2 separate regions of the Homo sapiens genome follow, and region 1 is linked to region 2. Evidence: fine-mapped QTL for protein levels in blood plasma. A gene starts in region 2. The other region holds a variant in brackets. All regions are shown on one strand. Distances are from middle to middle. Region 1 overlaps RALYL (RALY RNA binding protein like). Region 2 holds the start of CA1 (carbonic anhydrase 1).

The links. A credible set is the group of variants that fine-mapping cannot tell apart. PIP is the chance, under the fine-mapping model, that this variant and not a neighbour inherited with it causes the effect. Protein levels are from the aptamer-based SomaScan assay of Sun 2018.
Region 1: its variant is the best candidate, but not a certain one, in a credible set for the plasma level of the CA1 protein (Sun 2018, PIP 0.75).

Annotation. Positions count from the first base shown.
Region 1 is chr8:84,875,335-84,880,723 of GRCh38, forward strand. The region is part of intron 7 of RALYL (RALY RNA binding protein like); the gene reads left to right. Among named protein-coding and RNA genes, the nearest start is that of LRRCC1, 230 kb to the right of the region's middle. The variant G/A (reference allele first, on the strand shown) is at 2,667.
Region 2 is chr8:85,376,065-85,381,453 of GRCh38, forward strand. CA1 (carbonic anhydrase 1) reads right to left here and starts at 2,049. Exons shown (of 8, transcript NM_001128831.4): 1 at 1,982-2,049. RefSeq lists a promoter at 2,077-2,868.

The DNA.
Region 1 (5,389 bases), 500 kb before region 2:
CCTCAAAGAGAAAAATGTGGTCCTTATTCCATCATAATATACCTTTCAGTTTGCTGCAATGACTAATACCTTCCATATATCTTTTTGGAAGATCATTTAGAAATGTAACACTAAAATTCAAAGCTTGCATCTTTTTTTCATGAGATGTCACTTACTTTTGAACATGTTTAAACTTTTACAGTCATGAGACAGTTGCTTTTAAAATAATAAGACTTAGTCCTTTGATATTTATGTCTCTTTAACTTTTTATGAAGAAAATGAATTTGTAACTCCATTCTTTTAGTAATTGTTTCCTGAATAGTGTATTTATAGAAATAAAAGATAAATGTTTTATATATTTTACTATATTTTCTTCACGAAAAAAATCAGGTTTGCTTGGAAAGAATTAACACTACCTTATGGAAAGTAGAGTGAAATGCACTAAAACTCATTTTAAAATGCTCAGTGGCTCCTTATTCAAGGGGACAGTCATTACAATGCTTAATTAGTTGAAAGCTAATTACTTACTTGGTAGCTAGCATTTACTCTTCATTATTACTCTTTCATAAATTTCTCACTCCTAATTTACTATTAGTTATTTATTTAATAGTGAAATTTTCCAGCAGAGAAATAATGGCAGGAAGGAGATGGAGAATCTGAAAGTGTGGGGAAGGACACACAACATGGGCTGTGCCTGAGGTCAAGTTCCATAGTATCTTTTTTTTGGAAGCGAACTCCTAAGCTCTCAGTACATTACTTTGGATTTTCTATACCTTAAATTGCTCAAATAGATGTGTGTGTGGTGTCCTGTCATTTGAGATTGTTAAGTTCCTCAGAACAAGATCATGTCTTCTCTTCCCTAACTCTACCCAACACCAGGTATTATGTACTGGGCACAACTTAGCAAGTCATTTAACTCTCTTAGGTCTCAAGTCTTTCAAATGTAAACTAGAGGAATGGGTTATGGCCTCAAATGTATATTCTGGCTTCTAAAACTATGATTACTGTGAATCCACCATGCATGTATTATTTTTTCCATTACATCACACAACTTCTTTGGGGATATAGTGACTATGTAGATTATAGAAAACCACAAGTAACACTTAAAATCAGTTCGGCCAGCAATTTTGCCTCATTGTTAGATGATTCTTTTAAAAGAGCCGCATATAAGTTGCCACATATGCATAGCACAAATTACATGCTTTACGCAAAGATGTTAAGTGAACAAAAACAGTGAAAAGCACAAGAAGGAAAAGTAAAAAGACTGGATAGCATGCAATGGGAACAGTTACTCCATGGGTAACTACATTTTTTAAAAAATTACATTTCAAGTGCAGACTTTCTGAAGTGAAAAGGCAATTATTAGACATTATTTAGTTCAATTTTATTCTCACTGTTATTCCTGATACATGAGCAGCCAAGTCTGACTGGGACAATTCCAGTGATAACATTGGGATGTTAGACTTACGTCTTAGAGAGGTTACAAGCAGGAGTCCCACAAGATAAATTCATCCTACCCATATGTTTGGTATAAGAGATGAAGTTTTCAAAAATAAATTAATGTCCAAAAATTGGAGTATTGTAAACAAATCTCAAAATATGAGCTCTTTTGAAAATATTGAACTTTTCAATACTGCTACTCAATCACTCTACACATGGCATGCACTTTTCAGTTTGCTAATATCTTTATCCAGCCAGTTCATGTATTTATATTATCTATTTGGTCCCTGTTCACATTCATGTCTGAGACTCCCATTGCAGGTTTTCCTTACACTGAGCTAAAATGTATTTTGCTTTCACTTGGTTCAGTTATCACTCTTATGTTCTCTGAAAAGAAACTTAATGTCTAATTCTTTGTGATACAACAGTCAATTAAGAATTTAAAGGGAGTGGCCGGCCGCGGTGGCTCACACCTGTAATCCTAGCACTTTGGGAGGCTGAGGCAAGTGGATCACTTGAGGTTAGGAGTTCGAGACCAGCCTGGCCAACATGGTGAAACCCTGTCTCTACGAAAAATACAAAAATTAGCCGGATGTGGTGGCACATGCCTGTAATCCCAGCTACTCAGGAGTCTGAGGCAGGAGAATTGCTTGAACCCAGGAGGTGGAAGTTGCAGTGAACTGAGATCACGCCACTGCACTTCAACCTGGGCGACAGCGAGATTCCATCTCAAAACAAATAAATATATATATATATATATACACATATACGCACACACATATATATTTAAAGGGAGCTATAGTATTCTCACCCCTCCAAAACCTTTGAACAGAGAGTTGATATCATTGGCCTATGGGTATTCATCTTAACTGCATTCAAATTTTGATCACAGCATCGTAGAGGCCTTTTTGGTCTAGAGAAATATCAACAGTTCCTTTAGTTGCTTCTCATTTAACTTGGTTTTGCACCTTAAACTATTGCCATCTCTCTTCTCTAGTCATTATGTAGTTTGTCAACACAGATTACGTTGCTCAGAATGGAAAGTGTTGCTCCAGATATGATCTGACTGCTGTAGCCTATAACATGACTACCATTTCTGTTCTGAATACCTTACTGCTCTCATTGACACTTCAGATTGAATTGGTGATGCTTCCGGTTAAAGATGATGAATTAAACACATGAATTGAGCAGTGTTTTCTCTTGAAGCTGCATTAAAAACAAGGAAAGGGTTTAGCAGCTGGACAGGA[G/A]GTATACCTAATTTAGCACATCCTAGAAATCCAAGTCCAATTTTAATCACAAACTCCCAAAAAGCTCAGAATTCAAGGCATCATATTCCCCTGGAAAATAAATGGTTGAAAGTCTGTTTAGGAAACAGATTCCTATGTCCCAGCTATCCCAACTGCACTTTGAAAGAAGGCTGGAGAAGTTTCCTCTAGTGAAGGTAAAACAGTGGGTCTCAGGGCTGGTAGACAATAAGGAAACTTGAGAGCACTTAAAAGCAGAGAGGGAGAAAGTTTCCGTAATTACTGTAGAAATGCCCACCTTCTCCCTGACTCAGCTACCACAGCACTGGCAGGACACTAGAAGAGTCTTCAGTTGAGAACATGAGCAGCCCAAGAGGAAAGACTTAAAGATGCTGATAGAGGGTCAACTAAGGAATCACTCAGCCAGACCACCTACAGAGACAGTATCTCTCTATACTTACAAAGTTGCCAGTCAATATTTTAATGCCCTACTGTTAATGTGAACAAACAAGAATCACCAGATCAAAGAACATAGTTAATAAGCAAATGCCAAAAAAAAAAGAAGTCAGAGGAAACAAACATATACAGGAAGAATAAAACTTCAAAAAGAAAAAAAAAACACTAATACCCTCAGAGAAATGAGAAGATACTGTAATAAAAACATAAAATTATAGAACTGAGTATTCAAAGCGCTGATAAAAGAGCTTTTATAAATTAACATATGATAGCACAAATAAATAACTCAATACAATGATTGGAAGACAAAATTGGAAAAACTCTCCCAGAAAATATGGAAAAAAAAACAGAAATGGAAAATAGGGGAAGGATATGAGAATTACACGATGAATATCTGAATAAGCTTTAGTTTCAGTTTTCCTAGGTCATCTGTATTCATTCTGAGTTGGGTTTCAGTTTACCTATGTGGGAACCCAAGGCACGGGAACCATCTCAGCCTAATGGCCTTCCAATTAACTGTTTTAATATGCCCTTTCTCTGAAAAGTACTAAAAAGAGTACTTCACCAAAAACACAGCGATAAACCAAGAAAGAGGAAAAACAGAGCCTTCCTAAAGCATGGACTCTAAAAGCAAAAAACAAAAGGAATTCTCAAGATAGAGGTAACAGAGATCCTAGGAGATGAGCTGTGCAAGAGATCTGGAAAGAAATGAGTCCAGATCAGAACTGCTCAAAAGCTCTGGGATAGACTTTTTAAGACATCAAAATTGATGAAATAGCTACTGGGTGGGAAAGAGGATTGGTTGAGAAGGAGGGGTAAGTTTGCATAAGTACGTAAAGAGAAGCACATAGAGAACGAATTTTTAAAACTTGAGGCAATTTTTAATTCTAGAGAAAATAAAATATTCTTCAGGAAAGAAAAAGTATTCATCCTGTACTAACAACTTAGCTGCACAAAGTACTTTCACCATAAAAATTGTGTAAAAACTGAAAATTTATTAAATCCAATTTACAATATGATTCTCTAGAGAGATGGGAAGTGAATGGGGATTATAGGACCAAGAACTGAATCCTCAGCTTCCTAGGGATAATGTCAACAGATAGTGCATAAAACTGATCGAGAAGTAGCAATATAAACAATATTTAGAGATAGGAGTGCATGTATTTAAAAGATTCAGCCAAGTGAGTGGAAAGCCTTTAAGGAGCTGGAAATGGTGAACAGGTAGGAACAAAACGCTGCTGTTTTCCATAGCAAGCTTGTAGAAATATTTGAGTACAAAAATTAAATATTTTAAAGAAGTTAAATATAAGGGGGTGAAAAGACATTGAGTTGTCCTTAGCAACTAGATCAAACCTTTCAACTGCTTACTGGAGTGCTTCCTGTAGTGCTTCCTCAGTTAACTGTAAAGGCAAGATTGCCCTGGACACTTACTAAAAGCAGCAAGGAAGGCTTTGTTCAAGACTATTGCAATAGGAGATAAAATTGAACTCAACTCTGCAAAAATAAAAGGCAGAATAATTTTTTGAATTCTAGAATGAGCTAAAGGCAGGCAGATTCTTGAATGCTGGAGCAAGCTAATGGAAAAGTATTGGGGGATGTTGGAGGAGGATATTTGGCCACCATCTGTGTTTGCTAATTAGCTCTTATTAAAGTTAGGCTGCTACTCTCCCAAGGAGACTGGAAGACAATGGCTCTATCTTATTCAATGATAACATGTCAAAGAGATAGCTCCTGAATCTTAAGAAAAATATTCCTGGGTTACAGAAAATTTGCCTCTCAAATGGGCAGAGAAAGAATTTACAATTGCAAGTTTGCTAAAGCAAACACTCTAAGGAAAGGATGCTCCAGGGCCTATGGTCAGGAAGAAACCTACCTGTAGTTTAGTCAAGCCAAGGGGAATATTGAAGCCATCTTGTGAATAACTCAATCACAGTCTTTCAAAATTGAATTCTTTCTCCTCACTTTCCTACCTAGATATACTCCTCTGTACCCTATCTCTGTCATCACTATTACATAAATCCTGTCCATCAAATTGCCAGTCTCAACATTATCCTCTATTCCTACCATAGCAGTGTTGCCAAATCTTACCTTGGGTATATTTTTCACCCCTTCCCTCTATTTTCCTAAAGATACGCCAATACCCAAACCCTCATCATCTCTCACATGTTCTGTTGCATTCATCTTATTTTTTACACCAATTTATTGAGGTACAGTTTACATAGAATAAAATTTACTCATTTCAAGAGTACAATTCAATGACTTAGTGATTT
Region 2 (5,389 bases):
TCATGCCTTTAATCCCAGTACTTTGGAAGGTCCAAGCTGGTGGATCGCTTGAGGTTAGGAGTTCAGGACCAGCCTGGCCAACATGGCGAAACCCCATCTCTACTAAAAATACAAAAATTGGCCGGGTGTGGTAGCGCATACTTGTAATCCCAGCTACTCGGGAGGCTGAGACACGAGAATTGCTTGAACCGGGAGGCAGAGGTTGCAGTGAGCAGAGATCATGCCACTACACTCCAGCCTGGGTGACAGAGTGAGATTCTGTCTCAAAAAAACAAAAAAGTTATAAAAGAGGTAACTTTAAAAATTGGGTAAGGGGGCCGGGCACGGTGCCTCACACCTATAATCCCAGCACTTTGGGAGGCCGAGGTAGGCGGATCATCAGAGGTCAAGAGATTGAGACAATCCTGGCCAACATGGTGAAACCCTGTCTCTACTAAAAATACAAAAATTAGACGGGCGTGGTGGCACATGCCTGTAGTCCCAGGTACTCCGGAGACTGAGGCAAGAGAATTGCTTGAACCCAGGAGGCAGAGGTTACAGTGAGCTGAGATCACACCACTGCACTCCAGCCTGGTGACAGAGAAATTGTCTCAAAAATAAATAAATAAATAAATAAATAAATAAATAAATAAATAAATAAATAAAACTAGGTAAGGGTACACATGATATACTAGACTGCATGAAACAGTGTGAATTTGGAAAGCTCTGTTACCTCAAGGAGATGCCCAGCAGATTGACTTTCGGGTCGTGTAGAGGCACCCTGGGCATGTGTGGTACCTAATTAGGTCCCTGACCCTCTCTCAAATTCTTTAACTGACACTTCAACCCTGGCCTTGATTCTCTGATACAGTATCCTCAGCCCAATCAGATCATACATCTATCTATTCTCTTTATTTGCATAAGTGGATTTACAATACTGGGAGAAGAGAGAAATAACTATAAGAATGTTGAAGTTAGTCAAATCCACAATATTAACACATTTGTATTAACTTTAGAAATTTAATTATTTAATCCTTGAGATAACCTATGAAAGATTGTTTGTTAAGTTACTTGAAGCATTTAATATAACCTGATATATTAGAAAATCAGATATATGAACCATATAATTTCAATTTTAAAGTACAAGAGCATTTTCTTCAGTCTATACACAGTGTTTGAATGTTTAAGAGAACATAACTTACTACTGCATAAATTTGGTTTATTACTTTTACTGGAATTGCTTTAATTATTAGAGCCCCCTCCCTCCTTTTATAAACTTGCAAGATGTATAAAAGATACTAATGTGTCAGGCATTTGAAATGCTTGAGAGATTCAGGTAGACTAAATTTGTAATTGATATAATATATAATATTTAAAGGAACTTAATTAACCAAGTCTATCAATTGCATTATTTGTTTAGGGGAATTAACGTCAAATTGAACATTAGTCATGGAATAATTTTAAATGGTAATTTATATTGGCTGGGCACAGTGGCTCACGCCTCTAGTCCCAGCACTTTGGGAGGCTGAGGAGGGCAGATCACCTGAGGTCAGTAGTTCGAGACCAGCCTTGCAAACATGGTGAAATCCCCTCTACTAAAAATACAGTAATTAGCCAGGTGTGGTGGCATGTGCCTGTAATCCCAGCTACTCGGGAGGCTGAGGCAGGAGAATCACTTGAACCTGGGAGGCAGAGGTTGCAGTTAGCAGAGATGGTGCCACTGCACTCCAGCCTAGGCTGCCAAGTGAGACTCTGTCTCAAAAAAAAAAAAGGTAATTTATATTATCCTTTTCAGATTTACAGATTTACAGAGATCTGCTTGATAAATATAAAAGGTTTAGAAAAACTATAAAGGTTTTTTAAGCTTTGCAGCTTTCATTCATTGAATAGTAATTAAGATGTAGGTAGGACTGTATTTTACAAGATTTAAAGATTCTTTTGGCAGTCGGATAAAACACTTCAATGCTCAGCTAGATGAAAGGCAGAAGTCTTTGTTACTTACAGCTCTGAATGAGAGAAGGCTGCCACAGAGGACCACGCAGGGGGTTGCACCTGAGGACTGGGTACCACAGGCTGGAGGGGGAATGGGCAGCTTATGTACAGCAAAAAGGGTGGGGTTAGCTAGGTTGAATAATTTTGAATAATTTGCATAATTTTGGCGGGCTTTGGGGCATGGGCGCTGTCCTTAATTGTCTGATGTCTGGCCCTGTGGTGATTAGAGTGGGTACATAGTGGCCCCAGAGTGTGAGAACCTGATAAGGGAAGTGGTTGGGGTGTGGATTTAATCAGCTGCTCAAGAGAGGAAACTGACCAGCCTCTAGCCAAGGCCTCCATACTAGGTCAAGACAGCACAATAATCAATAAAAATACCATATATGAAATATATTTAGTCACTGATTCCTTTATATCTTGATGTCGATTTTGAACTCAATTATTTGGGGTGTTTGAGTGGCCTGAATAGTAGAGGAGACTTCTACAGAATAGGGCCTAAGTTGCACTAAACAGCATAGAAAACATTTTATTATGACAATAACAAGGAAGAAACCAAGTAGAAATGTGACAAGTCCCTGAAGGCTGACTCGTAACCAGGCTCCCATTTGTTTGGCGTTGGCCAGGAGAATACATCAGTCATGGCAAGGGCCTTTAGTCATATTTTGACTGGATTTCAGAGTGTGTTAAATATGTAAGGCATGTTTTTTTAGGGTGATGGTTTTCTGATCCAGGCTTTCTGTTAGAATGACCTCTTGATTGGTGGTGTTAACCCACCTACAACAAGAAGCTCTAATAATGTTACAAACACCTCTTTGACTAGTTAATATATAATCAAGGACAAATTTACTGTCAAAAAACATTTTTGCCAAAGCTCCCTGGTTTAGCAGGACTAATATTTGCTGTAACTTAGAAATATGATATACTAGAGTTTTGGACATTTGTAGGGTAGCATCAATTATTTTTGACTGTTGGGCTAAAGCAATGGTCCTTGTGGCCATCGCAGCAAGTCCCAGAGCAGTGGTGAGTCCCAGTATTATAGGTACAAATGTGGCACATCAATGACATTTGGCTGGGTAGGGAAAGAATAATTAACATTTATATAAATAGGAATGCCAAGAGAGGCCAGAATGCATCTCGTGGCTTCCAGTTTCAGAGTAATGGAAGGGCAAAGGAGAGGGGATAAACACCCTTGTTGGTTGGGACACAATATAGTTTTGTGGCATTACCATTAGACTGGAAAATTGTACCTTGATTTAGGTAAAGGGAAATTACTAAAGAATGGGACTGGAGGAAGACAGTGGCTTTTGTTGGGCATATGGTGAGAATATGCAGTTGTTCATTGGGTAGCCCATCTGTGGTATGTATTGAGGAAATACGAGTGCAGTTGCCACTTGCCATGAGGGGGCACCCCAATACAGAAGAAAAGGCCGTTTGGAAGTGGTTTTCATTTCTCAGTATTTTTCATCTCTGGGGCAATTATCAGTTGGGTAAATGTGTGATGTGGGATATGTGGAAGCAGGGTGATGAGTTATGGATAGTCAGTGCAGAAGAGCCTACTTCAGTCAAATGTGTTTGTATTTTGGATGTCTGTATAAATATCAGAGAAGCTGGGGCAGTGGGTTTGAATTTTACTTACGTAGTCTTTTAGAGGGCAAGAGGAGAAGATGCTGTTAGGACGGAAAAGATAGGGGTGGGAGTAGGGATACTGACAATGAGAAAGGGAAGGCGAGGAGGATGGAAGGGAATAAATGGTTTGACAGTCGGAGACCAGCAGATGCTCCTTTTACTCCTAGGAGAGCACACAGGGTGGAATACTTCAGTCAGGTTACCCTTTAGGCAGGAGAAGTGGGTGGGATTAGCAGGAACCTGAATCTTAGAAGCATTAGGGAGGTATTGGACTTGGTCTCATAAGGGCTAAGCCAGGTATAGAGTGGAATTACAATCACAGAGAGCAGAACTTCGAGTTTTATAGGTGTCTGTAAAGTCTGGAAAGTTACTCCAGTGTTGTGGGTCTTGCTTTTTTAAAACAGAAGTCAGCAGTGTAACCAGCTACTGGAAAACCAAGAGCCTCTGGTCTCCTATGAATGGCAAGACATTCCATGTGCTAGTGTAGTTGGCACTGCCCATAGTTGGTTGGGAGGCAGGGGGCATGTCATCTTTAATGGCATGGTCTTGAGCTAGGGCAGTGTCGGACTAGGGTATCCTTCCCACATGGATACCCACTAGGGTTGATGTGGGCTGTATTTTTGTGACTCTGTGGTGTTATAATGGGGCTGAGTCATTTGTAGAATTTGAATACAATGTTGGGTCCTGGGAGCTTGATTCACAAATGTCTTTTAAGTCAAAGGCTTTGTGGGTGCACAGCTAGCAAAGATGCTGGCATCCAGAATACTCCTATAATTGGACCAAAGTGCCAGAATCTGAATGGTACAATCAAAGTCTCAATTAAAGGCAGCTAAATGTCCCTACAAAGGACAGGATCTTGTTCCTTTTTATGGTGGCGTAGTATTCCATGGTGTATATGTACCACATTTTCTTTATCCAGTCTATCATTGATGGGCATTTGGGTTGATTCCACATCTTTGTTATTGTGAATAGTGCTGCAATTAACATACATAAGCATGTATCTTTATAATAGAATGATTTATATTCTTTTGGGTGTATATACCCAGTAATGAGATTGCTGTGTCAAATGCTGTTTCTGGTTCTAGGTCTTTAAGGAATTGCTACAATGTCTTCCACAATGGTGGAACTAATTTACATTCTCACCAACAGTGGAAAAGCACTCCTATTTCTCCATAGCCTCGCCAGCATCTGTTGTTTCTTGACTTTTTAATAATCACCATTCTGACAGGTGTGAGATCATATCTCATTGTGGTTTTGATGTGCATTCCTGTAATGATCAGTGAGGTTGAGCTTTTTTTATGTTTCTTGACCACATATTTGTCTTCTTTTGAGAAGTGTTTGTTAATGGGCTTTGCCCACTTTTTAATGGGGTTGTTCATTTTTTTTCTTATAAATTTGTTTAAGTTCCTTGAAGATTCTGGATATTAGACCTTTGTCAGATAGATAGATTGCAAAAATTTTCTCCCACTCTGTAGGTCACCTGTTTGCTCTAATGATAGCTCCTTTTGCAGTGCAGAAGCTCTTTAGTTTAATTAGATCCCATTTGTCAATTTTTGCTTTTGACATTTTTGTCATGAAATCTTTGCCTATGCCTATGTTATGAATGGTATTGCCTGGATTTTCTTCTAGGGTTTTTTGTTTTTTTTTTTACTTTTGGGTTTTCATTTAAGTCTTTAATTCATCTTGAGTTAATTTTGTGTAAGATGTGAGGAAGGGGTTAAGTTTCAATTTTCTGCATATGGCTAGCCAGTTCTCCCAGCACCACTTACTAAATAAGGAATCCTTTCCCCAT